3 separate regions of the Homo sapiens genome follow, and regions 1 and 3 are each linked to region 2. The links come from fine-mapping of genetic effects on gene expression. A gene starts in region 2. Each other region holds a variant in brackets. All regions are shown on one strand. Distances are between the middles of the regions.

Region 1 (10,577 bases), 48 kb after region 2:
TCGCGTCACCGCACTCCAGCCTGGGCGACAAGAGCGAAACTCCGCGTCAAAAAAAGAAAAAGAAAAAAAATGTAAGGTATATGTATGAGTTACACCGTATTTTGTCGTATTCTCAAAAGCACAGGAGAACCCCTGGATCATTTCCCTCCCACTTTAGTTGGCTTCCCATTTGCAGTGGACTCGCTGACTCCTGGATTTGGTCAATCAGTGTGTGGAAGTAGTAGAGTTAGAAGATGGAGGTTTGGAGAGTTTTTTAGTTTTTTGAGTTTTTTTGCTAGGGTGAGATAGGAGTATAAGTCAGTATAGGATGTTCTTTTAAGTATTCAAACATGATGGTAGTCATTTATATTATTTGATGGCATTTGTTGGGAGGTATTTTGGTGATCTTTGAAGTTACACAGTTTCTTGGTTGACCATTGTGTAGCAAAATAACAAGCTCTTCTTGACACTTAGAGAGAGATTACAGTTTGAATAGATGAGGAGATCCTGCCTTTCCAAATTTGTGTGTCTGAGAAGGGCTCTGGTGGTATGGATGGAAGCCCAAAAGAAAATAAAGTATATACAAAGAGAAGAGGTCAGAGAAGGAATTCCAAGAAGTGATTTTACTTAAAATGAAATGGAGAAAGGACTGTACGTGCATAAATCATCTAGCAGAGTGCTTTTTCCTATGATAGCAAGGAAGAAAGTTTGCACATTTGCTTTCTGCCTATCTCTTGAGAATTCCCAACAGCTCTGGTTGTTTTCTCTCCTGTTTACTCTCTGAGTAGTTCATTTCCACCCATGCATATTCTGATCCCCACCAGATCAATATTAATAGCTGTGACATGTACCTCTGTATTAATACTCCACTCTCACATTTTAGATTGCCTTTTGAAATGAACCTCCTCGATGTTTCCTCAGATACTTTACCCTCAACCTGTGTGAAACTAGACTCGTCATCTTCCCTGCATATTGAATTTGAGGTACTAAGGGGACACCCTCCTGAATTAAGTGACCTAGTTGGTCACTTACGCCAGAAACCCAGAAATGATCCTCAATTCTTTCTTCACTCTTCCTCCCACATCAGAATGGTCACTGTATATTTCAGTAATATCTCCTGTGTTTAAAATTTTTCTCTTCCTTTCCAGTCTTCCCTTCATTTGGCTCCTGGACTATTGCATTAGACTTCAGTCTGGTCTTCTTTGTTCCCTTACAAGCCATTCCCACACTGTTTCCACAGTGTCTCATCTGAAATGTAAATGATGATAATCTGTAACTTAAAGTACTTGAATGATTTCTCGTTGCCATATATCCATAAGCCCTGACCTTAACATGGTTTGTAAGGGCTACATAATAGAGTTCATATTTTCCTCTCTAGATCATCTGGCATCTCTCTCTCTCCACGCACTTCTATCTGAACTGTGAAATTACTACTTCTTTCCTCAGCTCCCTTTCCTCCATTTTTCTAGAAGCTAAACACCTGCTCTGCCTCAACTTTTTCTAGATGACCTGGAAAATTCCTCCCCATCTTTTTTTTTTTTTTTTTTTTTTGGTGATAGAGTTTTGCTCTTTTGCCCAGGCTGGAGTGAAGTGGCATGATCTTGGTTCACTGCAACCTCCAACTCCCGGGTTCAAGTGATTCTTCTGCCTCAGCCTCCCAAGTAGCTGGGATTATAGACGCCACCACGCCCAGCTAATTTTTGTATTTTTAGTAGAGACGGGGTTTCACCATGTTGGCCAGGCTGTTCTTGAACTCCTGAACTCAGTTGATCCACGCTGCTCAGCCTCCCAAAGTGCTAGGATTACAGGCATAAGCCACCGTGCCCGGCCCCTCCTCATCTTTGAAGACAACTCATATGTTACCTCCTCTTTGGTTCTTTTATACTTTATACTTTTTTTGTTGCTTGTTTGTTTTTTAATTGAACTTAGAAGTTACATTGCATTGTATTCTTTTTGTATTTACTTACATGCCTTTCTTCTTACACATCTTTACCTCTTAAGATAGGACCCGTAGCTTATTTTAGAGTACCTATGAACCTAATATAGTTGTTAGCAAAGAATAGGTATTTTAAAAATACATTGAATCATGCAAAATTTTGTAACTCTTAAATATTTTTAAATGATTATAAGAACAAAGTAGAACTTAAAAATGATAATGGCTATTATGAATTTCACTCAAATTAACCACTATTCTTTAGAATAAAAAGGAAAAGCCCCCAAGAACTAAACTTTGTATCTGAGAAAAGGATTTCCAGTAGATGGCATTATAAGACTATTTTTCTGTTTTTCTTACCATCCCTTTCACTGATAGAATTAAAATTTGTTTCTTTCTGATTGCTGTGGTTTATGAAAATGATTACATCTGTATAAAATCATCTTATGGACAGATTAAGCAGCCAGAAAAACTCAGTTAACGCGTCTCTGGGACTTCTGGGTCTGTTATTTTCCCCAGCTAGCCAGCCAATTCTCTGCAGTAATCTCCCTCCCTTTTTCATTCTTTAATTCATTCAAAAATATATTTACGGAAAACCTGTTATGTGTAGGCAGTAGGCAATTGTCTGATGATACATTGGTAAAGTAAGATAGATGTGGATTTATTTTATGCTGAGCCTTCCTTCATTTTCACATGTATCTTGAGTATTAGAACAGGTAATGAGAGGGGTATACTCTAGTGGCTAAGAGCTGGAGTCTAGAGAAAGACTTCGCAGTTCACCAAGCTACCTGTTATCTTAGGCATGGTACCTGATGACTCTTCTGCCTTAGCTTCCTGCACTGTTCAGTGGACATGGTAGCCAAACCCATGTTATAGGGATGTTGTGATGGTTACATGAATGAATATTGTGAAGCATTTGGGACACTGCCTGGCTCAAAAAATGTTAGCTATTATTATTTTTATTATCATTTGTTATTATTATATTTATTACCACAATTGCCTTTGCTTAAGAGCCAGATGGGCAGCATGAATTGGGTGTTTTCAGTGACCTATGAATCCATAATTGATGAGTTATCACCCTACTATCCCTGATCTGCCTAAGGAGCCAGAGATTCTAAAATATTTTAAAAACTTGAGAAACAGAAATGTTTATGGTTATGGTTTTATTAATTCTTTAGAGGTGATACTTGTGGTTTTAATGGGTTCTTGTCATGTTTGTGTTGCTGCTGCTAATACTGTTAATTAAGCACCACATTATGCAGGTTTCTTGGCGAGGCCAGGCCAGCTGGGTTCTTGTCATTAAAATCCAGCAGTTGTGGTCAAGCTTCATGTGCAGTGTTGTTAGCCGCTGAGATGAAGGTGAAGCCTTCTCATTTGGTTCATGGCCTTTTGGGTCAGGTAACAAACGTGTATAATATGAGCCTGCAGGGAGACGTTGGGGAACTGAACCTCACTTCTTTTTATTGCAGATTCCACTGTGTAAAGTAATTAGATTCAACATAGACTACACGATTCATTTCATTGAAGAGATGATGCCGGAGGTAAGGGAAAAGATTGTGTGTGGTTTGATGTAGTTTGCTCTTTTGCTTGTTCCATACTACTATTTTAAAGCATTGAACTTGGCCAGATCTGGCTTTTGCCAGGAATATCTCTAAAGTATCATATTCACTGTTGAAAGAGTCAGTGAAATGTAGCTCTAGTATCAAGGTTAAAATTCAGGCCAATTTTCAACTTGTTGACCTGTTTTTATACCCCTTTCTCCTTGTGTTACGTCTGCTGATATTAACTTTACATCTGTTTCTAGTTTCTTTTACGTAGGGGACAGATTTTGGTTACTGGCCATTATCAGAGGGGAAATTGGAATAGTGAAACAATCTGATAGCTGTTGTAATAATCTTATTCGTTATCTCCAATGACAAGATCAATGCTTGGTTCATTTTTCTTCCCATATATTTACATATTTTTCCTAATTGTTTTTCATTGCGAGTGCTCAACAGCAGATTTATCTCAATATATGCAAGAGATTTAAAATTCCAAAGGAAGATTAATGTGAATCTCAGAATGATTCATAGTCTGATCTTGAATTTAGTGGTGTCAACAAATCATACTAAGAAATAACAACTAGACAGCAAACAAGCTTGTGCACTTAACATTGTGTTGGAGTCAGGGTCAATTTCCGGAGCCCCTGGCTCTGCTTGCAAACCTTGTTTAATGGGACAGCTCTGTCATGGGCAGGGAGTGTGGAGGGGGAAATTGATCGGCATCACATGTGTGCCTAGTTGGCACCTGTTTCATTCTGAGCAAGTGTTGTTTATTGTACCTTCCTTTCAAAAAGAATTAAAGAAAAAGAACCACCCCTTCATTCTCCTGCTTTAGAAGGGTTTTTTTTTTTTTTTAACTTCCTTTTGGTTTTTAAGGTCATATGCCTTCATTTGCTATTGTAAAAGTTTATGACTTCTGGCGTGATCTCACGCAGGGTGATTTATGAACTCCGAGCAAAACAAGTAGGAGGAAGAATTATGAGATAAGTCTCACTTGCAAATATATCTGTTTAGCTTGTTTACAGGAGAAATTTTGGTGCAGAGTTGTATAATTTTCTTAGCCCTTTATTTGCATTCATTACTTTTTGAACTTTTTGGGTACACAGGACCTCTGTTTTTTGGTAACTCCATGACAATTATGCTGGATGTATGGGGCGGGGGTGGGGGACAAGCCTATCAGGTGCATATGTATAATCTGAATTAACAAAACATCCTCAGAAGATTCTGACACAGTTTATAATTGAATTAGAAAAATATATTAATATAAGTGAGACTTTACTTTTTGAATTTCTTATTTTATTTGTATACTGAGAAGGGCTAAGTTGACATTAAGGAATCCTAGTGGCATTATTGTCTATTTCATTTCCATCTGAAACTAGCGATCAGTGGCCAAACTCTTCAGGAAACTATATGGTCTTAGTATAGTTTTAACAGACACTTTTAAAGACACTTGACAAGAACAAGTTGAACCTTCAGTTAATGTATATTTTGCCAAACTACAGTAATTTAATTTTGGTTTATTTTTCAGAATTTTTGTGTGAAAGGGCTTGAACTCTTTTCACTGTTCCTATTCAGAGATATTTTGGAATTATATGACTGGAATCTTAAAGGTAAGTAATAGGATTTAAAGAAGAGAGTAGTGTTTATGGAAGAACATTATGGTATATGTGAAAACTCTTATAAAAGTTGTAGGGAGATAGTTGAAATTTCTCTTATTTTTTAAATACCCAGAGAAAAGTGTTATTCACAGGAATGCTTGTTATCATTTGACATGAATAAGTTTCTATGGATTTTACTTTATACAGTTTGACAGGGCTTATTATTAGCTGGTAGCGGCTTGAAGATGGTACCAGTTATTATGTGTAGCTACCTTGATATATGTGTACCTGGGAAATTACCATTAGTTAATATTTTAAATCTAGTAAACTTTGCTGTAATAAATCTTCTAAGATGCAAAACTTTGGTTAGTCATTAAAACACACACA[T/CACAT]GCACACACGCAGACACTTAGAGTGAACTAGATAGATTCAAAGACTTGATGCTTGGTTCTTGGATAGTAGCTTACTTTTTTGGAAGTATCCGTATTCTTTTTTTTTTTTTTTTTTTTTTTTTTTTGAGACGGAGTCTCGCTCTGTCGCCCAGGCCGGACTGCGGACTGCAGTGGCGCAATCTCGGCTCACTGCAAGCTCCGCTTCCCGGGTTCACGCCATTCTCCTGCCTCAGCCTCCCGAGTAGCTGGGACTACAGGCGCCCACCACTACGCCCGGCTAATTTTTTTTTGTATTTTTAGTAGAGACGGGATTTCTCTGTGTTAGCCAGGTTGGTCTCGATATCCTGACCTCGTGATCCGCCTGCCTCGGCCTCCCAAAGTGCTGGGATTACAGGCGTGAGCCACTGCGCCCAGCGGTTGGAAGTATCCGTATTCTAGCAAACAGTTACTTATTTATTGGTGAATGGCTTTTCAAACTGATAGCATTTCTCAACATTTTTTTTTTAGTGTAGTGATTAAAATGGGAAAGAATGAACACATAGTCACATTATATCATGCAGTAATTCAATTATAATAAGTCTTGATAGTTTTGAATTTTAAAAATAATTTTACTGTATGTATTTGCTACTTGGGGCTTTCATCCTCTTCTTGCCTTCCTGTAGTCTCCTCATTGCAGTCTTCCTTGGGTGCTTGTGGCAGTTACCAATGATTGATTTAGCCACTGAGGAGGAGTGGCAGGAGGTGGTGGTAATTTTTATGCCTCTACTTCTGGTGGTAGTTTTTGTGGTTATCATAAATCTTAGAAATTAAGTTGCAGTGCTTGTTTTTTAAGACTGAGTTTTCTTTTTTTTTTTTTTTTCTCATTTGTTTGCTTCAGGTCCTTTGTTTGAAGACAGCCCTCCCTGCTGCCCAAGATTTCATTTCATGCCACGTTTTGTAAGATTTCTTCCAGGTAAATCTTCTGGCTTGTCAGTGACCTGGTGAGATAGTGCATCTGAAAATAAGCTTGCCATTTTCCTTTCAGTCTTCAGGGACAACTTTCCCACCTTCGATACTGTTAATTATCTACTTCTCAGGTTAGGCACGGAAATGTAAAATTATACATGTGGATTTATATCCCTGCATAAATTATGGTAGTCCAAATTAGATGAACAATGGAAGAACAGATTTATAAATTTTAGAAATCTACTTGACAAAATATCATGCGGGTGTGTTAATGTGGAGAAATGATTGTGGCTTAAAAAATGCATATGGCTAATTGGAAAACAATAAAAAAATTTAAATGCAATATGATTATAACTGCTGAAAAAATTACTGTAATAATAGTTACATTAAGGTAGTAGGATTATAGTGATTTTTTCTTATCTTTTGACATGTGCTTGAATTCATTTTACAGTGAAAAAAAGGTATAAAATAATTTTTTCTCCCAATAAAATATAGGGAAATATATGACAGTTTTTTAAAGCAATATTTTAACTGTTTTCTAATTTTTTAAAAAGAATCCACCTGTAATATTTGGCATTATATTTAGTGTTTTTAAAAATGCTTGGAGTCAGTTTAGTGACATGTACCTATAGTCTCAGCTATTTGGGAGGCTGAGAAGGAAGGATCGCTTGAGCCCAGTGAGGGTTTGAGACCAGCTTGAGCAACATGGCAAGGCCCTATCTCTAAAAATTAAAAAAAAAAAAAAAGTATTTTTAATGAAATCTTTTGGTTGCCTTTTTGTTTGCAAATCTTTCTCCTTGAGGCTTCTGGCACCCTATTCCCACTCCTTCTTTATTTATTTCCTAGTCAATTACCTGCTTTATCAAATGCTGTGAAACCTGGCTTACAGTTTCCTCTCTCCACAAGGTTCTGTTACCAGCCTGGTGAACTTCACTTACCATTCTACCCTGAGCTATATAATTATTTGACTTTTTCTACTGTAAGGATTGTCACCACTCAGCCGCTTAATCTTAAGATAAAACCTTGGACCATGCCACCAACCTACATTAATTTCTCCCTAGAATTTGACTCCATTATCTCACTTTCTGGTGACATCCTTCAGTCTAGCCTCTCATGTCCCTATTGCCTTTGCATCTACTTGGATCTTCCCTCTTCTCCTTATGTATGGCTACTTTCCTTTGCCTTCCCCACCAGGTCCTGTGCTCTGATGTTTACCCTGTCAGTTCTAGCTGTCTTAGCTGCCTGTATGGCCATCATCTCCGAGTTAATGTCATCAATCCAACTGCTTGCCTTTTCTTCTATATATGGGCCACTCAGTAATACTGAAGAGTAAAACATAGCTGCTGCTATAAATCTGTGGTCTATAATCTTGGTTGGGGAGCTTTTCTTCGTGTAACCTTTCCACCCAATATCAGCAGTTAAAGAATTTCAGTGCTGTGTTTGTGCTGTCCTCCTTATGCCTCCTGTCTTCCCATGGGCAGAAGCCCCTGTCTCCCTTGGGCAGGAGCCCTTGTCTCCCTCATGCCTGAGAGCCCTGCAGTGAGCCTGTCGGAGTCTGGCTTCCTCCAGTGCCCTTGTCCATTCACAGCCAAGTTTTGCTTCAGTGCCAGACCCTCTCTAACTGTCCCTAGCCCACTGTAGCTGCCGATGCCAGAGGCAGCCTCCTACAGACCAAGTGCAGAGCATGTGCCTCAGTGTTAGTCTCTTCCCTGCTCTGGTGCCTGGGTGCTCCTTACTTTCCTCCTGTCTCTTTGACTCCTCTTGTGTGGCTTTAGTTTCTTGTCTACTCTGTCTGGTTTAGATTTTTCTCAAGATTTTTTCCTGATACTCTTTCCTCAGTCCAGGCAGTCAAAATGGCTTAGTTTATTTTAGGTTAGCATTACTCAGATTTTTAGTATTACTGTTCATGTTTATTTTGTTTAGAAATGCATTCAAAGGCTTTTCTCCTTTTTATATCTGGTTTTGTTTTATTGAGATGCCGTTTCTTCTCTTCTGGTGAATGAATCTTTTGATTTTAGAATGGAGCTTCAACAGTAAACTTATTAGAAAATGGTGTTAGAGTGAATTTGCTGAAAAGCCTTTTCCTTTCTATATCTACTTTCCTGTAGGCGTTTTATGACCAAACAGATGTCTGAGAGAAAGTGGGCAGTTTTAAAATCACCTTAAAGAAAAATCTGCTGTTGGATATTTACTTTGTGAGATTTCAACTCTCACGTAACTATGTGGGGATAACATTTAGGTTGTCATAAAGAAAAAGGTCTATTGATTTGTTTTTAAACAGGGTTTACCTTTTCATTAGACTCCCCTTTGAAAATATACATACTAAGAAGACCCCGAAGGATACAGAAAAATACCTGATGTATAAAATGCATTTTGGTATTAGATAGGAAATTACGGTTGATTTGTTATTCATAATGTGACTTTGTTAAAGATCTTTTAGAAAATGGTGAATTAAAAAAAAACATTTTGATATATATTTTCATTTTTTTCTGTGCAGAAGGGTTTTTTTTACGTAGTTGTCATCTACTAGTATATGATTTGCATCTATTTTTTAATAATTCATTGAGCAGATGGATATTTTTAAAGATTGTGATATATAGTGCCAAATTTCTTGTCAAAAGAATAACATCAGTTTGTGCTGCCATGAAAAATGCATTATTATTCATTTTTAGCATTTTGCCTTTCCCATCTTCCTTCTCTCCTTTCTTTCTTCCTTTTAAAAAATTTCAGTGGTGAGTTCCATGAGGCTGAAGAGTAAACATTTGTCTGTCTTGTTGTATCACTAGTGCTAACATACTTCATGGCACATAGCAGGGACGCAGTAAATGCTTGTTTACTGATTTTATTTAATTGGTCATAATAATGCCTTATCTAAGTATTCATGTTTTTGGTTACTAGTGAGTGTGCTTTTCAAATAGTCTTTGGTATTATCTCTCATTTTTATAAAGTAAACTTTTGGTTGAACTATAACATAAATACTGAAAAGTGCATGGATCATGAATATAGGACCTTAGTGAGTTTTTACAAAGTGAATATGACCATCCACCCAGCACCCAGATCAAGATTAGTAGCTTCCAAGAACCCCCTTCGGACCCCTTTCCAGTCGCTGCTGAGACCCTCAAGGGTAACCGCTATTCTGACTTGAAACACCATGTATTAGTTTTACCTGTTTTTGAACTATAAAAACTAGAATTTTATATTCTGTTTTGCTTCTGTCTTTTGTTTAATGTATTTCAGAATCATATCCTGTTGCACTTAACTGTAGTTGGCTCATTCTCACTACTATATAGTATTATATGGGATGACTAAATTAAAATAAACCTATCTATGATTAATGGACATTTGAGTATTTTCAGTATATATATATATATATATATATATACTGACATTGCCAATAGAAAAACGGGCAAAAGACTTGAATGAGCACTTTAAAAAAAACACTATCTAGGTACCTAATAAATATATGAAATAGTGCTCCATTTTATTAGTCATTAGGAGAATGCAAATTAAAATCACAATGTGATACTTCTGAACACACATCAGAATGGCTAAATTGACAAAGAAAAAATAAATGCCAAGTGGTGAGAATGTGAAATAACTTGAATTTTCATACACTGTTAATGAGAAGGTAAAACAGTACAGTCACTTTGGAGAACTGAAAGTGTCTACAAAGCTTAATATACACACAGCCAGAATTCCACCTGGTATGGTATATATGTAACAGAAAAATATGTATATATGCTCACTAAACAACACGTACATGTCTTTGGTGAACGTACATATGCTATTCAAATATACAGATACAGATATATAGTGAATATATGTTATATATAGTGAATATAGAACATGAATATAAATGTCATGAATATATATATATCTAATACCTTCTCTGTAGATTGCTTTTTGATCTTCTTGATGATTTTTGTTGAATAGAAATTCTTAATTTTTATGTAGTCCAATTTATAGATATATATTCCTTTATGATTAGAGCTTTTTGTATCATATTTATGAAATTTTCGCCTACCCTAAAGTCAAGATACTCACTTATATTTTCTTCACTTTCAGAGCTGTAATCAGTCTTGAATTTGTTTTCACAATTCGTATGAGATATGGGTCAAAACTCAGTATTTTCAACGTGGGTATCCAATTGACCCAGCACCATTTATTGAAAAGAACAATTTCTTTCTTTAGAAA
Region 2 (10,577 bases):
ACCATAATATTCTCAGTATGAAAGGTGACTTGGTAAATACTTCAAACAGTGAAGCCAAATACTTCTTCTAGAGGCATGCCTTACCCACCTAAAATCATGGTTAATATTTATTTCCCACTTGACCTCTCCCAGCATACACAGCTATAAACTGTAAAAGCTATTTTCCAAAAATAGATTAATGACATAGTAAAACTAATGTCCAAGCTTATTAAAACTGTACAACCCTAAGATGAAGCTGTATCCCCCAACCTAAATTAATATTCTTTTTAATAACAGCAGTTCTCCCATGTTCCTATCATACAAACATGCAAGTATTTGTCAAACTGCACACCAACATGTATATGTGTCTCTTCCATACATTTTTACTTGCAGGATTAACCAAAGTCATGAATCAAAATCTTCCAAAATTGTTAATCACACGTGGAGTTTCAAATGTCTGTGTCAGATTGCTGAAAATTATTTGATTTTGTAGGTTAAATCAGGCCTACTCACTGAAGTACTCAATAAAAACCCTACTACTATTTCACATATACCAGTAGTATGTACAATATTTATATGCTGAGTCTTAATTATTTCTTTTGAATTATATCTGAAATAAATACAATTTTCATATATCACAACAAAGCTATTTGTGCAAACGACAAGATTATATACTACAAAAGTTAATTGTATCATTAAGAATAAATTAGAAATAAAGTATCATTTTCAATGAGGAAGACTATCTGATTTTCAACGTATTACCATTTCACTCCATTATCCTTAAGGTTCTAGAAAGTTATGGCTATACTGTTTAAAATATTTATCCCATCACAAGAGAATTTTAAAGTCAAGAACATATTGATATTTCTGAAAGTATTATAGTATCACAAGATACACAAAACATTGTTAAATAGCTTATACAATAAAAACAGTTGCATATTTATCTCAAGTCAGAGGATACTGTAATTTACTTTAGATTAAGTACTTATCTGAAACTAATTATATTATAAAGAAAATTAAAGCCCCAAATCTACTTATTCAGCAGTTGGATTTATAAAAAAATCAAAGTGAGATAATTTTGCCCTTTCACTGCTAATTACTGTTTTTTTGTTTGTTTGTTTTTTGTTTTGTTTTTGAGACAGAGTCTCACTCTGTTGCCCAGGCTGGAGTACAGTGGCACGATCTCAGCTCACTGCAAGCTCTGTCTCCTGGGTTCACGCCATTCTCCTGCCTCAGCCTCCTGAGTAGCTGGGACTACAGGCGCCTGCCACCACGCCCGGCTAATTTGTTTTTGTATTTTTAGTAGAGACGGTGTTTCACCATGTTAGCCAGGATGATCTCGATCTCTTGACCTCGTCTTCTGCCCACCTCGGCCTCCCAAAGTGCTGGGATTACAGGCGTGAGCCACTGCGGCAAATTCAGCAGACAACAGTTATACTGACAGGAAACAGTAAAATGTACTACTGAATGTATAAATCTATAAGATACTTCAATGGCTTAAGGAGTTAATCACCAATGAAGCCCAAATTCCGGAGGATAATGATCACATTCAAAATCTAATTTGACCAGCAACTAAATATAAATGGTACATGAAGAATATCAAGAGACTTAAAAGTTTGTTCTTCGTGTTTTGAGAACTCTTTGGAGAAGTCGAGGCTTAATCTGACCCTATTTGTGTGCAGAGACTTATGAAGTTATTATAGGAATCCAAAATAAGATAGAAACATTCAATCACTTCCATATTCACAAATATGAGGAAATTACCTGATTGTTGTGGTAGAAGTGTCTTTGCCTACTAAAAAGTGGTGTCTGCCCTCTCTGATCTGCTGAGCCCATGTGGGATGAAACCATATTACATGTGAAAAATGGCCAGCATAAACTGCAGGCATAATCCAATTTTCAATACTTAATTCTCTGGAAAAGAAACATAGAGACAACATTAAAACTTTTATTTTTATTTTTTCCCAAGTGTAATTTTATCCACAACATTTTAAGACCACAGGTCTCAAAGTGTGGTCCCTAGAGTGGTTCCTGAGACTTTTTCAGGGACATCACTATTACAAAACTATTTTCATGAAAATACTAAGGCATTATTTCCTGTTTTCATTTACTGACATTTGCAAAGATGGTGCAAAGGCACTGGTGGGTTGATGTTCCAACATTAATTAAGGCAGCAGCACCAAACTGTTAGTAGTTACTATATTCTTCATTACCAACCACTGCCAAAATAAATAAATAAATAAATATAAAAGTGTCATTCGAGAACATCTTGATTTTATTAAATTTCCATCCTGAGTATACATTTTTAAATATTATGTGTGGCAAAATGAGAAATGCACAGAAAGCTCTCCTGCTACATAGTTTGAAGCATAACAGTTGTCTCAAGGAAAAGCACTTGTGATTGAACTTTGAGGTGAACACCATTTATCTTGAAAGGAGTGGTCAAGAAACTATGGTTATTCACACTTGATACTGAATTGCTGAATTCTACATTTCAAATAAGCTTTAATAAACTACTACTTTTCAAGTTTTGGCGCACTATCAAAGAATATTCACAATTATCTAAAAAGGCTATCAAAATATTCTTTCCTTTTCCAATTACATGCCTGTGAAAGCCTGAATCTTCATCATATATTTCAACCAAAACAGCATATGGCAATGGACTAAATGCAGAAATAGACGTGAGAATCCAATGGTCTCTATAAAGGCAAATATTAAAAGGATTAAACATTGGCTAGGCTGTTTTTGTAAACAAAGTTTTTTTGGTTTGTTTCTTTTAAGAGATGGGGTCTGGTTATGTTGCCCAGTCTGGAGTGCAGCAGCTATCCACAGGCTTTGATCACAGCCTGGAACTGCTGGCCTCAAGTGATCTTCCCACCTTAGCTTCCTGAGTAGCTGGGACTACAGGCTCATCCACCATGCCCAGCTTGTAAATAAAGCTTTATTGGAACACAGCTACTGTCATTTGTTTACACAGTGCTTGTGATTGCTTTCACACTACAAAGGCAAAGATTAATAGTTGCAACAGAGACCATATAGCCAGCAAACCTAAAATATTTGCTAATCTGGCTCTTTAAGAAAGTTGTCAACACTTGTTCTAAATAAAATGAAAAAGACAAAAAGACAAACAAAAAACCCCCAAACCCATGAGTTTAGCAAAGTCTATTTCCTATAATTGCTTATTATCTACTGCAAATTGTACTTCAAACACAAAAGACCATAAATAAAATCACATATTACCCAAAGAGTGTTTCCTTATCAAACACGGTGTCTGCTGGCATATTCACAGGAATAAGGAGGTCTGGATGTGAGTCGAAATGTAAAAAACTTACATTACTGGCAGGAAGATGCTTTGAGCCTATGGCCCGGTATATAAAGGGTAGAACCTGTAAAAGACACAGGCACACAATAAGAATTAACACTGAAACCATGAGCACACACTCAACTGCAGACTGAAAAACAATGCTAAATAATGCACATAATTGAAAGCATACTATGTTGCTGTAAAGTGGAAAAACATAAAATTTGTTTACTGTAGATGGTGCAGATGATAATCTCAAGCATTACTTTGTCCTCAGAACTTCCAACCTGCATCTCCAGCGGCCTTCCTGCTGCCCCCTTGAACTCAACAGGTCATGTGGGGAAACAGACCAGGACTGGGGCTCAGGAACAAACTACCGCTTAATGCCTGTTCTAACATTAACTAGGTGTTCAAGGTACCCTAGGTCTCAAAGTATTCTTTTTTTTCCTTTAAAAAGGGATAGGGGCTTGTCAGTTGCCCAGCCTGGAAAGCAGTGGTGTGATCATGGCTCACTGCAGCCTTGGACTCCTGGGTTCACACGATCCTCCCACCTCAGTCTCCTGAGTAGCTGGGATTACAGGCACGCACCACTACGCCCAGCTAATTTTTTCACTTCTATTTTTGTAGAGATGGGATTTCGCTCTGCTGTCCAGGCTGGTTAGGGTCTTTTTGGTACACTTAGAATGGTGGGGTTGGGCTAGGTGGTCTATAAAGGCCATTTCTCCTCTTACATCTTCTCTAATTCTAGGTTTAATACCTAATTTGAAAGCACCGTCTAACCTAGGCTTTCTCATTCTCTCAAGGTCATAGACACTATATCCAGGTCCTGAGAAACCTATCTTCCTCTCCTATTAGCTGTCACCAACAGTAAATCCCTCTTCTTTTTTAACGTCCAGAGAACTGCCTCCCATCCCAAGCCTACTGATGCTACTTTAAAACATATTTATTAGATCCATGGGCCTCCTTTGTTGACTTGGAAAAGTCTAGATTAAGACACCAATTTGGCTACTGTAAATCAGCACGGCCATAAACATGGAAACCCCTTTTAGTGTTTATCTATGCAGGGCACCGTGTTAAATTTTTTTTTTTTTTTACGCAATATGGGCCGTGCGCAGTAGCTCACGCCTGCAATCCCAGCACTTTGGGAGGCCGGCGGGGGCCGATCACGTGAGGTCAGACTTTCAGACCATCCTGGCTAACGTGGCGAAGCCCCGTCTCTACTAAAAATACAAAAATTAGCTGGGTACGGTGATGCGTGCCTGTGATCCCAGCTACTCAGGAGGCTGAGACAGAAGAATCGCTCGAACCCAGGAGGCGGAGGTTGCAGTGAGCCGAGATCGCGCCACTGCACTCCAGTCTGGGTAACAGAGAGAGACTCCGTCTCAAAAAAGAAAAAAAAAAGATTTTTAAACACAGTATGCACACAATAATACTCCTAAGAGCCCTGTGAGTCCTACGATTACTGTCCCCATTTCAGATCAGAGCCCACGTTCCAAGCATAAAGCCTCCCATCTAAACAGCAGGGCTGTGGTGGCGATTCCAGGAGATACTTGGAAGCCAGAGTTAACTGCAGGTTAAGAACACAGGGCTCTGCAGCCAGACTGTCCGGTTTCGAATCCCGATGCCACCTTTTGTTTGGTTCTGGGATTTGGGGGCAAACCGAGGTAAATAAGTTGCCCCGACTCGTAGGAAGCGCCCATAAATGTCAGTTCTCATTCTTCCTAGTTAGCTGTTTTGGGGTCCTCTCCACAGCAACGGAATAGGGCAGTTTAACTCTGGTTAACTCTCTGGCCTCCGATGCTAAGGTTGCGCCCTCTGCTTGGCCCTCTGAGCGTCAGGGCTTCCGCTGATTCTGCCCCAGAGCCCTGTTGCCGTCCGCTCACCTCCTGATGATCCTCCACCACCCACACTGGGAGCTTGGGGTAACGCCGGAGACCAGCGCGCCCTCCCGCGGAGTCACTCATGTTTTTGCGCCCGTCAGTTTTGCAGTAAAGCGGTGGCAGCTGGAGAAGACCCGGGAAAGCCGGCGCCTCATCCCGGCCAGCTCTCTCCGGGCGGAAGCGCTCCCTCACCCGGTTGCGTTTTCGGATTGGAGGACGTAGGGGGAGGGGGCGCGGGCTCCAAAGGGTCTTTTGCTGACGATTGGTCTAGACGTCCATCGCTTTCGTTGACGCGCCAATCACCGCGCACAAGGCCCTGCGGTGGGCTGAAGAGTTTTCCCTCCCTTGGCCCAGCTTTCTCAGGTTTGCTTTTTAATTCCCTCGGTTTCCTGTTCCGGAGGCGCGGGCGGTGCCACTGTCTTGGTACCTGCGGTAGTAGCCTGGCTTTGCTCTGACGGCGATCTCGCGGCCCGAGAGCCTTTTATAGGTAAAAGGGGTACCTTGCAAGTGTTAGAAGAGAGTTTCCGAGTGTCAGGATTTAAACGGGGCTGGAGTCTCCGGGGCTGGGGTGAAAAGCGTCCGGGAATTGGGGTCGGGCAGCCCCACTTCAGATCTGCAGCTAAGGGCAAAAGAGCGACGCTAGGCCTGGATCCCGCAAATAAGTGGAAGTGAAAAAGGAGACCTTTCATTCATTTGTGGAGCACACACTATGGTCCAGGCCTGGGGCCGCCCGGCTCTCGGAGGGGAGTGAGATCCTGAGCTCAGCGCCTGCCTCGTGGGGCGTACCGTCTGGCGGGAGATGCAAACAGTAAATGTGCAGTTATGGATCAGGATGAAGGTGACTGCCCTGCAGATCCACCTGGGGAAAGAGGGAGTTCTCAATAAAAATGTAGTCACACTTTAAAATTCTTTTTACATGCACTGACGTTCTGGCCGTGTTAACTATTCAAGACAGCTCCTTCAGTGTCTCTGTTTCCAAACCGCAACCGAGAAGAGACAGACGGAGAAAAGAGAGTTACTTTTCCAGGTGCAGTGAATTCCTTGACTTTTGAATTAAAGTCTGCATCCACAACACAGCCGGACTATGCCTTCAATAGGTCAATTTCATGATTAGTATTTTTAGATTTTCTAACTACTGAAACATCCATGAGGATCTGGCAGTGAATGTTCAGCTCTTGTTACACACTGTACAAGAGTGTTCGTGACCCTGACTTTTGCCCACCTCTAGGTGCGGCACACACCTTTGTGTTCCCCTAAGCCCTGCACATACCTCTTTTTTGTGTGTTTATTGCATTATTTTGTATTTTTAAAACACTTACTTGTACGTGGGTTCTGAGTTCCTTGAATCCTACAGGCTGTGTGTCTTATTATCTCTGAGTCTACAGGGCCTGGGACAGTGCTTCCCATTTATGGGCTCATTAAATATTGCATGACTCAGTGAAAAGGCCTGCTTTCTGTTGCGGAGGTACATGGAAGGGAAATGTACAGTAGCAACATGGAAACATACTATTGGTGAGAGAGTAAACATTTATTGACCACCTACTGTGTGTAGGTTGCTTTTCCCGGGGATGTGAAGGATACAGAAATGACTGTGAATCAACCCATATCATCAAGGAGCTGATAATCTAGTGGAAGAGTTAGACGTGTGCATACTTCACTATGATATGAGGCAGTCTCTGGTAAGTGCTGTAAAAGGATTAAGTATAGACTAAGTCTAGAGGGAATGGGATTACCTAAGGGAATCAGGAAGGGCTTCATAGAGGAGGTGGCATTTAAGATTGATAGATGGATAGAAAATCACTGGGCAGATTCATACGTTGGGAGATTTTTTTTTTTTTTTTTTTTTGAGCTAGAGTTTCGCTCTTGTTGCCCAGGCTGGAGTGCAATGGCGCGATCTGAACTCACTGCAACCTCTGCCTAGGGTGGGAGATTTTAGAGAGGAGAACGGGAGCAAAGAACTAGCTGGTTCTTTGTACTCGAATGGTAATCTGTTGGGAAAACATGGGGTAGTAGGGTCTTTCTGGGGAAGGTACTGGAGAACAAGCCTGGGTCCAGAGTCAATAGAGCCTTAAATGCCAAGCACAGAGGTTGAACTTGATTCTGTTGGCAGTGAGTAGCCTATGGTGGCAGGAGCACCTGTCCGGGCCCCAGGTTTATCATGAGGGTACTGGACTGGATAATAGTAATAAGGAGTCAGGCGCAGTGACTCACGCCTGTAGTTCCAGCTATTTTGGAGGCTGAGGTGAGAGGATTGCTTGAGCCCAGGAGTAAGAGACAGCAGTGAGCTATGATTGCACCACTGCACTCCAGCTTAGGGACAGAGTAGACTTTGTGTCTTAAAAAAAAAATCAGATATTATTTGGTGCCTATTATTTATTAAGCACACTGACTGCTAGCATAATCTGAAATTATTTTCATGAGCCATTTGAAAGTCTACATAGTAAAGTTCTATTGATGAGACTTTTAGAAAGACTTTCAGAAAATGTTTCTATGTTACAGCTTTTTGTACTCAATATTTATGTGAGTTTTTAAAAAATGTTTTGCTGAAGTTCAAGTATTTGGAAAATCATTCATGTTTACAGTGTTTTTATGTGGGAGGAACTGAGAATGAAAATTAAGAATCATTAACTGGTGTGTTAACAAGATTCTGGTTATGTTTGAATTTGAATGCTGGTCTCACTGTGATTTTTGTGTTTGGTCTATGCCTACATGGTTTGTTTTTTTTTTTGTTTTTTTTTTTTTGTTTGTTTTTTTGAGACTGTCGCCCAGGCTGGAATGCAGTGGCGCCATCTCGGCTCACTGCAAGCTCTGCCTCCCAGGTTCATGTCATTCTCCTGCCTCAGCCTCCCGAGTAGCTGGGACTACAGGCGCCCACCACCACGCCCGGCTAAGTTTTTGTATTTTTAGTAGAGACAGGATTTCACTGTGTTAGCCAGGATGGTCTCCACCTCCTGCCCTCGTGATCCACCTGCCTCGACCTCCCAAAGTGCTGGGATTACAGGCGTGAACTACCATGCCCGGCCTATGCCTACCTGTTTTTACCATGAAGGAAACGAGAGTATGAAGGGGGAGAGGGGAAATGATATTTTTCCCAAGTCTTTTAACAAATTAGAGATGATCTATGCCTATAAGTCTTTTTAGCTGCTGATAGTTTTGAGTTGGCAAAACTAGTAATAATGACATTTTAAAATTTAAGGACATTAAAAATTTAGTTGGAAACTTTAACACAGTTCAACATGCTTTTAATTTTGTTTGTAGGCTAAGTGTATTGGAAACTACAAAATTAGTGTTATGGTAATTGCAGAAATATTTTGTAGCATTGGCAGTTTGGGAAACATGTTTATGTCTGTTTTATTCTTTCTGTTTTTTAGAGCTTATATTCTCTGTGGAAGATGTGACATATCCAGGCGGAACATCATGATGCAGGGAAACACATGGTGAGTGCCGTGATGGGAATGGCAATAGTTTGGGAGAACCGAGAGAGGAGCAGACATTGGTGCTGGGCTATAGAGGGTGGAAAGGATTTAGATACATGGGGAGAGGGGATAATGTGCTCATTCTTTCAACAGTGGGCACAATACAATAGAGGGCCATGCCCAGGGCTGGGAAGCCAGACCAGAACAGTTAATAGAAATCCCAGAGCGCTGCCCTGACAGCGCTTGCAGTTCCGAGGTGCAGGCAGACATTAAAGGTGGAATTAGGTCCTTAGAAGGTGGATTGTAATTATTGTAGGACCTGCTAAGAAGCAGCACAGAGTGTTGTGAGAGCAAGGAACCTAACAAAGCCCTAGGGTCAGTGACAGTGGTTGTAGAAAGGCCAGCAAGGATATTATTATAATAGCCATGTAAGAGGTGATGATGTGAAGTAGATGAATTCAGGAAATATTTATGAAGCAGAAACAATTGGATTTTTTGTTTATTTTTTATTAAGGGATAGTTGCCATATAAGTGACAGCAATTTTAAAGTAAATTTTTAGCTAAGGATGGGGGGTGAGGGAGGACAAGTCAGATGATTCCCTGTTACATGTCTTAAGGACTATTAATGGTGTCATTTATTGAGATAGGAAATACTAGGAAAAGAGCAAATGTTTGTCTTGGAGGGCAAGGTCATTAATTCCTTTTAGCATATGTTATGTTGAATTTGTTGGTCCAGGTCAGTGAGACACTCAAGGAGAGAGATGGGGTTGGTAATTGGCAGTGTGGGTCTGGAGCTCAGAAGTTGTGGGCTAAAGGTGTAACTTGGGAGTTTCTGACAGATTGATGTCAATTGAAGCAGTGCAGGTGAGTAGCATCACTTTGGAAGAGAGAGTGAGCAGAGTGCCTGGGCTAGACCCCTGAGGAATACCAGACGGTTAAAGGCCCCCTAGCAGAGAAGAAGCTGGTATGGGAGACTGCCAGGAGGAACAGCCAGAGAAGTAGGAAGGCCACAGTGAAGGCATCATGTCAGGAAGCCAAGAAACGCATCCATGGGGGTGGGGGCTGGGGAGGCAACTGGACTGATTGCTGCACAGAGATCAAGCAAGGTGATTGAAAATGACCTTTGGTTTTCAAGACAAGGTGGGCACTGATCATGTCACTTATTGGAGAGGTGGTGGAAGCTGAAGTCGGATTAGAGTGAGTTAGAAGTATATACACTTTTGTCTTAGCTTGGGCTGCCATGACTAAATGCTATAGACTGGGTAACTTAAACAGTAAACATTTATTTCTCACAGTTCTGGAGGCTGGCAGTCTGAGATCAGGGTACCAGCACAGCCAGGTTTCTGATGCATGCCCTCCTCCTGCCTTGCAGGTGGCTGCCTTCTTGTTGTAGTCTCACCTGGTAAGGGGTGGGTGGCAGGGATTTCTTTTCTCTTTCTCTCTTCATAAGGGTACTAATCCCATCATAATTACCTCTCAGAGTCCCCACTTCCATATAGCATCACATCAGCGTTATGATTTCATCAGCAGGAATTTTGGGATGGACACAAACATTCGGTCTGTAGCAACGTTTTCAGGTCATTTGACTGTAAAGGGGAGGACAAAGAAGGGGCAAAGTCAAGGGAGACCTGGAGGCCAAGGAAAGTACTTTATGTTGGAATAGACCTGAGCACTTTCAAATGCTGATGTGAAGGGTCTGGTATCAGGGAGAGGTGGAGGATTGCAGAGGGGGGGTGGTAATCCCAAATCTGCATTTGGAGATGGGAGTGGGGGCTGGGGAGGCAAGCCCCCTTGATCTTGTGAGGTCAAGATCAGAGGGGAACTTGAGCAAAGGCATGACAGCAAATGGTGAACAATGGGATGTTGAATTGGTCATTTTGGAAGTGGAGCAGCTTTAAGGAATGGTCGGTCCAGGGACTAAACATGGCAGTGGGCTGGGTGGCCAAGAAAGGGGAAGAGGAGTTTATTGAGCATGAGGGTTTCAGATGTTAGCAGGAACCC
Region 3 (10,577 bases), 33 kb before region 2:
GCCCAGAGAGGTTGAGGCTGTAGGTCGTGCCACTGCTCTCCAGCCTGGGTGACAGAGTAAGACCCTATCTCAAAAAATAAAATAAAGTTAAATAAAATAAAATAATATGTGTGTGTGTCTGTGTGTGTGTGTGTATGTATGTGTGTGTGTGTGTGTGTATATATATATGTGTGTGTATATATATATATATATATATATATATATATATATATATATATAAAATTATGTTCAGGGGCAAAGGGAACTTTATTTCCACCCTCTGAAGGTTTGATAATTTTAGTCTCTGGAATAAATTGGACAGTAGACAGATCAACAGGAGAAAAGGCGTACAGATTGATTATGTGCATATGCATGGGAGTCCCACAAACTATGAGACTCAAAGAAGGACCAGATGGCTGAAGCTTAAATAGCATTTTGGGCTACAGAAAGAAATAGTAGTTTGGGGTTTCCAGGGGCGGGGAGGTGGCATCAAATTATGGAAGGTTAAGGTTGAAAATGTCTGGCAGAGGTTTTCTTGTAATGCAGATAGTCTTCCAGGTAGCAGTCTTCGAAAGAATACTTTAGGCCTGTGTTTAGGCTCCTTTCCTGTGAGTTAATCTTCCCTGTTCAATGAGATTATAGGGAGGGACTCACAATTGTATTCCTTCTAGAGCAACTTCAGAGAAAGCCATACTCTGGCGCTTCGGGAGGGAAGGAGGGGAGACAGACCTTGATTTTCCTTTAGTGAAAAGCACTCAGCATGCCGAAGCACCATACTTTGGGGCATCAGTTTCTGAGCCCCAACACTTGTGTATGTAAGTACCTGTACAAACATATAATATAGTTTTTGAGGTCTTTATATTTTCATAAATGCAATGCTATTGAACACATTCTAAACTTTGCTATATTATGTATTGGTAAATGTTCAGGTTATTGTCCACTTTTTTTCAACTACAAACTATACAGAAAAAAATCTTTGTGCATGCCACCTCAAATACATATTTGTGTATTTCCATAGGATAGATACTGAGAAATGGAATCACTGGGTCACTGAGAATAGTTACTATTTTGAGTTACTGCCAAGTTGCTTTTCAGAGAAGCTGAAGTAATTTATTCCAGTTTTAGTAGGAAAGTACCATTTCTCCACATTCTTGATTAGTATTACCAACATTTTTTAATGCTTTGCCAGTTATATGGTGAGAAGTTACATCTTACTTTAATTTACATGTCTGTACATGACTAGGGAGAATAAAATTTATTTCTTTGTTTACTGATCATTTATATTTTCTCTTCTGTGACTTGACAGTTCACCTTGTCTGTTCATTTTTCTGCTGAGTTGTCTTATTCTTATATATATCCAAATTAAAATTTTTTGTTATATGTTATATTTATTTCTAGTTTGCACTTTTTTTAATACTTATATTTTAAGTTTGCTTATGCCTTTAGGTTTTTACAGAAGGTTTAAATTTAGACATGGTTATGCAAATCTCTTCCCTTGCAACTTTCCTTAATTCAGGCTTTTCTGCCCCAGAGTCATAAACACAGTCTCCTATGTTTTTATATAATACTTTTATAATCTTACTGAGATATATAATCCATATGCAATTGATTTTTATTAAGTGTGAGTTAGAGACCAACCTTTTTTTCTCTAAATGCATGGCCAATTCTCCCAATACTATTTCTTGAGTAGTCCAGCCTTTCACCACTGATAAATTTCAACCTTTATTAGATATTAAATTCCTATGTATGTGGAAACCTTTTTCTGAAGTCTTCATTGTGTTTCATTAATTTTGTCTGTTTATTCATGCATCAATATGACATTTTAAACAATATTAAACACATGCTTTGATATCTGCCAGGGCAAGTTTCTCCCATTTTTTCCTCCTAAAATTGTCTAAGCTATGCATACACGCATACACTTCTAGCCTTACTTATGAATTCTTGAATTAGCTAGCCAAATTGTATGCTAAAGACTGTTGGGTTATTTTGGGGATTACATTTTACATATCAACTTGCAGAGAGCTGGCTTTTTTTTTTTTTTTTTTTGGACAGTCTCTCTCTTTTGCTTAGGCTGGAGTACAGTGGCATGATCTCTGCTCACTGCAACTTCCACCACCCAGGTTCAAGTGATCCTCCCACCTCAAGCTCTCCAGTAGCTGGGACTACAAGCATGCACCACCACACCCAGCTAATTTTTTTTTTTTTTTTGAGATGGAGTTTCACTCTTGTTGCCCAGGCTGGAGTGCAATGGCATGATCTTGGCTCACTGCAACCTCTGCCACCCAGTTTCAAATGATTCTCTTGCCTCAGCCTCCTGAGTAGCTGGGATTACAGGTGTGTGCCACCATGCCGAGCTAATTTTGTATTTTTATTAGAGATGGGGTTTCACCATGTTGGCCAGGCTGGTCTTGAATTCCTGACCTCAAAGTGATCCACCTGCCTCGGCCTCCCAAAATGCTGGGATCACAGGCGTGAGCCACCACACCCGGCCTAATTTTTGTATTTTTTGTAGAGAAAGGGTCTCACCATGTTACCCAAGCTGGTCTCAAACTCCTGGGCGCAAGTGATCCTTCTGCCTTGGCCTCCCAAAGTGCTGGGATTATAGGCATGAGCCCCTGCACCCAGCTTGGCATGTTAAAATACTGAAATTTATCGTCTATAACCAATAATGTTCTTAATTTTGGATTTCTTCTACATCTCATAAAGTTTACATTTTTCCTTGTAAAGATCTTCTATATTTATTATTTAGGTTCTGTTGTGAATTCTTTTCCATTACATTTTCCATCTATTGCTATTTGTATTAGTCTGTTTTCACACTGCCATGGAGAAATACCTGAGACTGGGTATTTTATAAAAGAAAGAGGTTTAATTGACTCACGGTCTCACATTGTTGGGGAGGCCTTGGGAAACTTACAATCATGGCAGAAAGCAAAGGAGAAGCAGGCACCTTCTTTACAGGATGACAGGACAGAGTGAGTGCTGAGCAAAGGGCACTCTTAAGCCCCTTACCATCAGATCTCATGAGAACTCACTATCATAAGAACAGCATGAGGATAACCACCCCCATGATTCAATTACCTCCTATGACAACTACCTGGGTCCCTCCTATGACACACGGGGATTATGGGAACTACAATTCGAGATGCGATTTGGGTGGGGACACAGCCAAACCATATCACTGGTGTATCACAAAACTACTAATTTATGAATGTCCATCTGCTATCTAAGCCACCTTGTTGAACTTTGTTGTTATTTGTAAGTTTTCATCATATTAGTTTCATAATCTATCATGTGGTAGATTAATCATACCCTGGAGCCTCCCCCTCTTATCTCAAATCCCTAGGAATGACAGAAAAGTTATAAGAAAAATAAAATACATCCTTGCCTCCTAGAACACACAAAAAAGAAAAAAAAAGAAAAAGAAAATACATAGTGGCATCCTGTATATACTATTAATCATTTTATATTTTCTCTTCCTCCTGGTGGAATTTTCAATATCAGTACACAGAGAGGAGCCCCCTTCTGTGGTGGTAAGGGTACCACCATATGGATGTCTGATAACTTAACCAGTCCCTGTTGAAAGACCTTCCTCCCCAGTCTTTTACTGTCACAATGAAAATCCTTGTATAAAAGTCTTGCAATTGCCTGATGGGTTCTTCCTGCCTGCTGCACAGACAAATGCAATTCACTGAGACTGTGGTACTGCAGTAAAGAAAGTTTAATGCAAGGCCAATGATATGGTTTGCCTGTGTCTCCACCCAAATCTCATCTTGAATTGTAGTTCCCATAATCCCCACATATCATGGGAGGGACCCAGTGGGAGGTATTGAAACATGGAGGTGATTACCCTCATGCTGTTCTCATGATAGTGAGTGAGTTCTCATGAAATCTGATGGTTTTATAAGGGGCTTTTCCCCTTTTGCTCAGCACTTCTCCATCCTGCTGCCCTGTGAAGAAGGTGCCTTCTCCTCTATCGCCTTCCACCATGGTTGTAAGTTTCCTGAGGCCTTCCCAGCCATGCGGAACTGTGAGCCAATTAAACTTCTTTTCTTTATAAATTACGCAGTCTCAAGTATTTCTTCATAGCAGTGTGAGAATGGACTAATACAGAAGAGAGTAGGGTGCTGCTATAAAGATACTCAAAAATGGGGAAGTGAATTTGGAACTGGGTAACAGGCAGAGGTTGGAACAGTTTGGAGGGCTCAGAAGACAGGAAAATGTGGGTAAGTTTGGAACTTCCTAGACTTGTTGAATGGTTTTGACCAAAATGTTGATAGTGATGTGGACAATGAAGTCCAGGCTGAGGTGGTCTCAGATAGAGATGATGAACTTATTGGGAACTGCAGCAAAGGTGACTCTTGCTATGCTTTGGCAAAGAGACTGGTGGCATTTTGCCCCTACCCTAGAGATCTGTGGAACTTTGAACTTGAGAGAGATAATTTAGGGTATCTGATAGAAGAAATTTCTAAGCAGCAAAACATTCAAGAGGAAACAGAGCATAAAAGTTTGGAAAGTTTGCAGCCTGAAGATGCGATAGAGAAGAAAAACACATTTTCTGGGGAGAAATTCAAGCAGGCTGCAGAAATTTGCATAAGTAATGAGGAGCTGAATGTTAATAGCAAAGACAATGCAGGAAATGTCTCCAGGGCAGGTCAGAGATCTTTGTGGCAGCCCTCTCATCACAGGCCCAGCGGCCTAGGAGGGAAAAATTGTGTTGTAGGCCTGGGCCAGGGCCCCCCTGCTCTGTGTAGCCTCAGGACATGGTGCCCTGCATCCCAGCTGCTTTAGCTCCAGCTGTGGCTAAAAGGGGCCAATGTACAGCTCATGCCATTGCTTTGGAGGGTGCAAGCCCCAAGCCTTGGTGGCTTACATGTGGTGTTGGGCCTGCGGGTGCACAGAAGTCAAAAATTGAGGTTTAGGAACCTCTGCCTAGATTTCAGAGGATGTATGGAAATGCCTGGATATCCAGGCAGAAGTTTGCTGCAGGGATGGAGCCTCCATGGAGAACCTCTGCTAGGGCAGTGCAGAAAGGAAATGTGGGGTTGGCTCCCCAACACAGAGTCCCCACTGGAGCACTGCCTACTGGAGCTGAGAGAAGAGGGCCACTGTCTTCCAGACCCCAGAGTGGTAGATCCACCAACAGCTTGTACTGAGCACCTGGAAAAGCCACAGATAATCAATGCCAGCC[G/A]ATGAAAGCAGCCAGGAGGGGAGCTGTACTCTGCAAAGCCACAGGGACAGAGCTGCCCAAGGCCATGGGAGCCCACCTCTTGCATCAGCATGACCTGGATAGGAGACATGGAGTCAAAGGAGATTTTTTCAGAGCTTTAATTACTGCCTCGTTGGATTTCAGACTTGCATGGGGCCTGTAGCCCCTTTGTTTTGGACAATTTATCCCATTTGGAATGGGTATATTTACCCAATGCCTGTACCCCCATTTTATCTAGGAAGTAATTAACTTGTTTTCAATTTTACAGGCTCAAAGGTGGAAGGGACTTGCCTTGTCTTGGGTGAGACTTTGAACTTGGATTTTTGGGTTAATGCTGGAATGAGCTAAGACTTTGGGGGACTGTTGGAAAGGCATAATTGTGTGTGTGTGTGTGTGTGTGTGTATGTGTGTGTGTGTGTGTTTGAGACAGAGTTTCCCTCTGTCACCCGGGCTGGAGTGCAGTGGTGCAGTCTTGGCTCACTGCAAACTCCACCTCTTGGGTTCAAGCAATTCTCCTGCCTCAGCCTCCTGAGTAGCTGGGATTACAGGCATGTGCCACCACACCCAGCTGATTTTTGTATTTTTAGTAGAAATGGGGTTTCACCATTTAGCCAGGCTGGTCTTGAACTCCTGACCTCAGGTGATCCACCTGCCTTGGCCTCCCAAAATGCTGGGATTACAGATATGAGCCACCGTGCCCGGCTGCATAATTGTGTTTTGAAATGTGAGGAGATGAGATTTAGGAGGGGCCAGGGGCAGAATGACATAGCTTGGCTGTGTCCCCACCCAAATCTCATCTTGAATTGTAGTTCCCATCATCCCCACGTGTTGTGGGAGGGACCCAGTGGGAGGTAATTGAATCATGGGGGCTGTTACCCCCATGCTGTTCTTGTGATAGTGAGTGAGTTCTCACAAGACCTGATGGTTTTATAAGGGGCTTCCGCCCCTTTTCTTGGTACTTCTTCCTGCCGCCCTTTGAAAAAGGTGCCTTTCTTCCCCTTTGTCTTCCACTATGATTGTAAGTTTACTGAGGCCTTCCCAGTCATGCAGAACTGTGAGTCAATTAAACCTCTTTTCTTTATAAACTACCCAGTCTTGGGTATTTCTTCATAGCAATGTGAGACCAGACTAATGCAGCTAAGCAGAAGAACTGGAGTTATCACTCAAATCGGTGTCCTCAAAGGCTTGAAGATTAGGGTTTTTGAGAGATACTTTGATGGGCAGGGAACTAGGGAATGGATGCTACTGATTGGTTGGGGATGCAATCATAGGGGTGTGGAAAATGGTCCTTTTGCACTGAGCCTTCTTCTGGGTGTGGGGCCACAGGACTGGTTGAGTCATAGGTCACGAGTCTGGATGGGGTCAGTTGCCAGAATGCAAAAGTCTGAAAAGCATCTCAAAAGACCAGTCTTGGGGCCGGGTGCAGTGGCTCATGCCTGTAATCTTAGCACTTTGGGAGGCTGAGGCAGGTGGATCACCTGAGGTCAGGAGTTCGAGACCAGCCTGGCCAATATGATGAAACTCCATTTCTACTAAAAATATAAAAATTAGTTGGGTGTGGTAGCAGGTACCTGTAATCCCAGCTACTTGGGAGGCTAAGGCAGGAGAATTGCTTGAACCTAGGAGGTGGAGGTTGCAGTGAGCTGAGATTGTGCTACTGTACTTCAGCCTAGGCGACAGAGCTCGCTCCATCTCAAAAAAAAAAAAAAAAAAAAGCCAGTCTTGGGTTCTACAATAGTGTTGTTATCTATAGGAGCAATTGAGGAAGTCACAAACCTTGTGACCTCTGGCCACACGACTCCTGAGCAGTAGGGGATTATAAAAACTATGCCCACATTTTAGCAGAATTCTGTCCCCTCCCATAATGCTAATTTCGTGGCCTTTCATTAGTTTTTGGTCCCTGAGCAAGGAGGAGGTTAGTTGTAGGGAGGGACTATTATCATCCTTGCTTCCAAGTTAAGCTGTAAACTAAATTCCTCTCATGGTTAGCTTGGCCTACACTCAGGAATGAGCAAAAACAGCCTGTGAGGCTAGAAGCAAGACGGAGCCAGGCATGTCACGTTTCTCTCATTGTCAGAATCTTTGCAAAGGTGGTGTCAGTCTTTGCACAAGTATCTGCAGGATAAATTCCTAGAAGTGAAATTCCTAAAATCTGAATTTAAAAGTGTATGCAGTATACTTCAATGTTAATAGCTACCACCAAAGTGCCCTCTGGAGGCTGTACCAATATGTATTTTTAACAATAATATATCAGCATGCTTGTTTTCCCACACCTTCAGGAACACACTCGGTTTAAAACTGCCAGAAAGGAATACAGAAATGGCCTCTCAATTCTTGCTATAGCAGATGCTGCAGATGTCCCATCCAGTATTTCCATCTCCCTTCCAAGTTTACCTGCAGAGGATGGTTACTGCCCATCCTGACAGCATCCAATATGTGTCTGTATCTTTCTGCTTCTTTTCCTGAGTCATTTTGAGGTGTCACAGGAACTTGCTTAGCCCATCCAAGGGTGGGCTTCCCAGGGTGGCTGGGAATTAACAGCCTATCAGCTTCTCAGAGACAACCCTCAACCAAAGAGGAAAGAGAACCAACGGATAAATGTGCAAAATTCCCATGTCTCAGCAGGCAATTCTGAAGCATGTTCCTGCCAATTCTTCTGGGGATCCTAGTGAAATTGAGCTCTTGTTGGCTAAAGCAGTAATCTTGTTAGTACATCCTTTAATCACTTTGCTACCTTCCTTATCTCATTTCCCCACTCCTTCACTTCTTGCTATCACCTCTCAAATAAACTACATTCACCCAGATCCTTGCCTTAATGTCTGCTTTTGGGGAAACCTAAACTAAGACGGATGGTACTAGAGCTGGTCCTATAAAGGAGACCCTCAGAATGGGATATGAGAATTTGCTCATGCCCCGGTCAGGAGCAACAAGAACCTCACTGCTGGTCTAAGTGGGGGAAGTGATAGCCCATGGCTTAGCATGTTTACTAAGAATTTCACCAATGATTGTTTAGGATGAGGTACAGGCAGAAGGGGAAGCACTCGGCTAGGGAAGGATTGTGGAGGTGGCTGACTTTTGTAAACTTTTCTGGAGTCCTTGAAGAGAATAGCACAGAGAACAGCAGGTAAGCCAATTATCAACTCAGGGCATGCTATGAAAGCCAAAGGCTTTCATGGCCAACTTTAATTAGATCCTCATCTCTTGTTGCAGGAGTGCAGAGTATGATGCATATTAGACTCAGAATATAATCATAAAAATGTCAGCACTGCAACGGATGCCAAATTCACAGCCAGGGCAGATGTCCTATGTTAACTTCAGGGCCCAGAAAGGGAAGCAGTAGGACTGTGAAACCTGGAATGGTCATGCTACACAATCTTGAATCCCATATTCATTTGAATCTTCAAAAAACAAAAGAAAAAAAAAGAAAAGAAAAAAACATGCTGGCTCTGGTGGTTAATGCCTGTAATCCCAGCATTTTAGGAGGCTAAGGTGGGAGGTTCAGTTGAGCCCAGGAGTTAGAGACCAGCTTGGGGAACACAGTGAGACCCCATCTCTACAAAAAAAAAAAAAAAAAAAAAAAATTAGCTGGGTGTGGTGGCACGCACCTGCGATCCCAGCTACTTGGGAGGCCGAGATGCAAGGATTGCTTGAGCCTGGGAGGTGGAGGCTGCAGTGAGCTGTGATGATGACACCACTCCAGCCTGGGTGACAGAGTGAAATCTTGTCTCAAACAAACAAAAAACCAAGCATGCTTATTTATTAAGAATCTTTCCTTTTCTCCTGTGATCTAGAAAGTTTCCTTCCTTCTTTTCTTTTTCACTTTATTAAAATTTGATTCAATTGTAATTAATTTGTTGTAAGGAGTAAATTGGGAATGCAACTTCCTAACTCATCTTTCCCCACTGATATAAAATGCCACCTGGATTGTATACCAAATTCCGTATGTACTTGGGTCTTGTGGGAGAGAAAGCTAGGTGTTCTCCAAACCTGCTCTTTCTTCCATCTGGGCATACAACCGGTTACGTTTCCCAGGTTTCCTGCAGTTAGGAACTGATAGGCCTGGCAGATAAAAGCCTCCCAAAAGATGCCCCATCCTCTTTGCCTTCTTGCTAGGTGGATTAGAGATATTCTCTAAGAAAACCTTGAAAACCACATGTTAAGGATGGGAAAGCCAAAGATGCAAAGAGCCTGAGTCCAGAATCCTTGTGAAGAGGAAAGTCTGCTGAGCAGAAACACATTCTGGACTTCATGAAAATGAGAAATAAACTTGCACTTTGTATGAGACATTAGTTACTTTTTATTAAATCAGATGTCCTTACTCTAATATAGGTCTATTTCTGGACCTTATTCTGTTTCATTCGTCAGTTTCTCTGCTCATATGCCCATACTATGCTGTTTTAATTTACATAGTTTCATAATGTATTTTAGTACTTAGTAGGAGTTAATAACTTCATTCGTTTTTCACAATTTTTTTGGGTTCTCCTTGCATGATCATTTTTCCGTATGAATGTTAGAATCAGCTTCACTGGTTAAAATAAAACCTCCTTTGGTATGTTTATGGAAATTATAAACATTAGAATTTGATATAAGAAGCAGTGACACCTTTATAATATTGAATCGTCTTATATAAGCACTATTATTCTCTTCATAGATGGTCATGTCTTCATTTTTATTCTTTAGTAATATTATAAAGTTTTATTTGTATAGGTGGTAATAATTTTTTATTTTGTTTACTAATAGTTTTTTTTGAAGTTATGGTATTATAAATAGGATCTTTTTTCTATAATATTTTATAACTGGCTGTTGCTTATACAGGAAGCCTACAAGGATGCTGTGTTACCTGTTTTAGCATGATGTCAAATAAAAATGAAATGACCAGTCGGACATCCAAGAAAAACGTCTAAAAGCAAAACAAATCTTAAGTTTAAAAATGTTTACACTGTATAGCAGAAAAACAGACTGCATTCAGAGAAGGCATGTTGTTCTAGGTTAATTCACAATGGTCAGAGTTGCCCTCCTTTTTGATTAGAATTCCAAAGAGCTGCTATTTTATAAACTGTCCATACTATTTAACGAGCAAGCACTGTTGAGCTGGGGTTTGAGGAAGCACAAGAAACATCACCATTCTCTCCTGTTTCTACTAACTCAGAAATAGGCGCAGGCCTTCAGGCAGATGGATATATCACTATTACTGATGAAACTGATATTAGAGAACATGGCTTATGTCTGTGGCAACAGCTAGCTTCTTAACACTGCATTGAGACAGACTTTGTCATCCACTGGCAGCATGGGACAACTGTAAGCCTCTCCCATGGAGCCCGTCCTTACAAACCAAAGGCATGGAAAGGCAAAACAGAACATATATTTCTATAAGAAGGCATCTTGTAATTCT

Alleles and levels. Positions count from the first base shown, and alleles are read on the strand shown. Sizes are in standard deviations (SD) of each study's normalised expression. Not every link is listed here.
For the expression in adrenal gland of the gene that starts at base 5,336 in region 2, allele CACAT in region 1 goes with a higher level than allele T (moderate effect, 0.70 SD a copy in GTEx).

Evidence for each region.
Region 1: its variant is fine-mapped to the expression of C5orf22 in adrenal gland (GTEx, PIP above 0.99). The same link has a PIP of 0.9 or more in cerebellar hemisphere.
Region 3: its variant is fine-mapped to the expression of C5orf22 in tibial nerve (GTEx, PIP 0.93).

Annotation. Positions count from the first base shown.
Region 1 is chr5:31,479,367-31,489,943 of GRCh38, reverse strand. DROSHA (drosha ribonuclease III) reads left to right here. Exons shown (of 36, transcript NM_001382508.1): 14 at 3,382-3,453; 15 at 4,982-5,063; 16 at 6,316-6,390. Among named protein-coding and RNA genes, the nearest start is that of DROSHA, 47 kb to the left of the region's middle. The variant T/CACAT (reference allele first, on the strand shown) is at 5,439.
Region 2 is chr5:31,527,060-31,537,636 of GRCh38, reverse strand. It overlaps C5orf22 (chromosome 5 open reading frame 22), which reads right to left and starts at 5,336. Exons shown (of 9, transcript NM_018356.3): 1 at 5,164-5,336; 2 at 3,220-3,365; 3 at 1,744-1,893. The coding sequence starts at 5,244. DROSHA (drosha ribonuclease III) reads left to right here and starts at 5,544. Exons shown (of 36, transcript NM_001382508.1): 1 at 5,544-5,647; 2 at 6,112-6,187; 3 at 6,713-6,839; 4 at 8,532-8,597. The coding sequence starts at 8,578. RefSeq lists enhancers at 5,115-5,164, 5,215-5,264, 5,295-5,464.
Region 3 is chr5:31,560,008-31,570,584 of GRCh38, reverse strand. No RefSeq gene overlaps it. Among named protein-coding and RNA genes, the nearest start is that of C5orf22, 33 kb to the right of the region's middle. The variant G/A (reference allele first, on the strand shown) is at 5,168.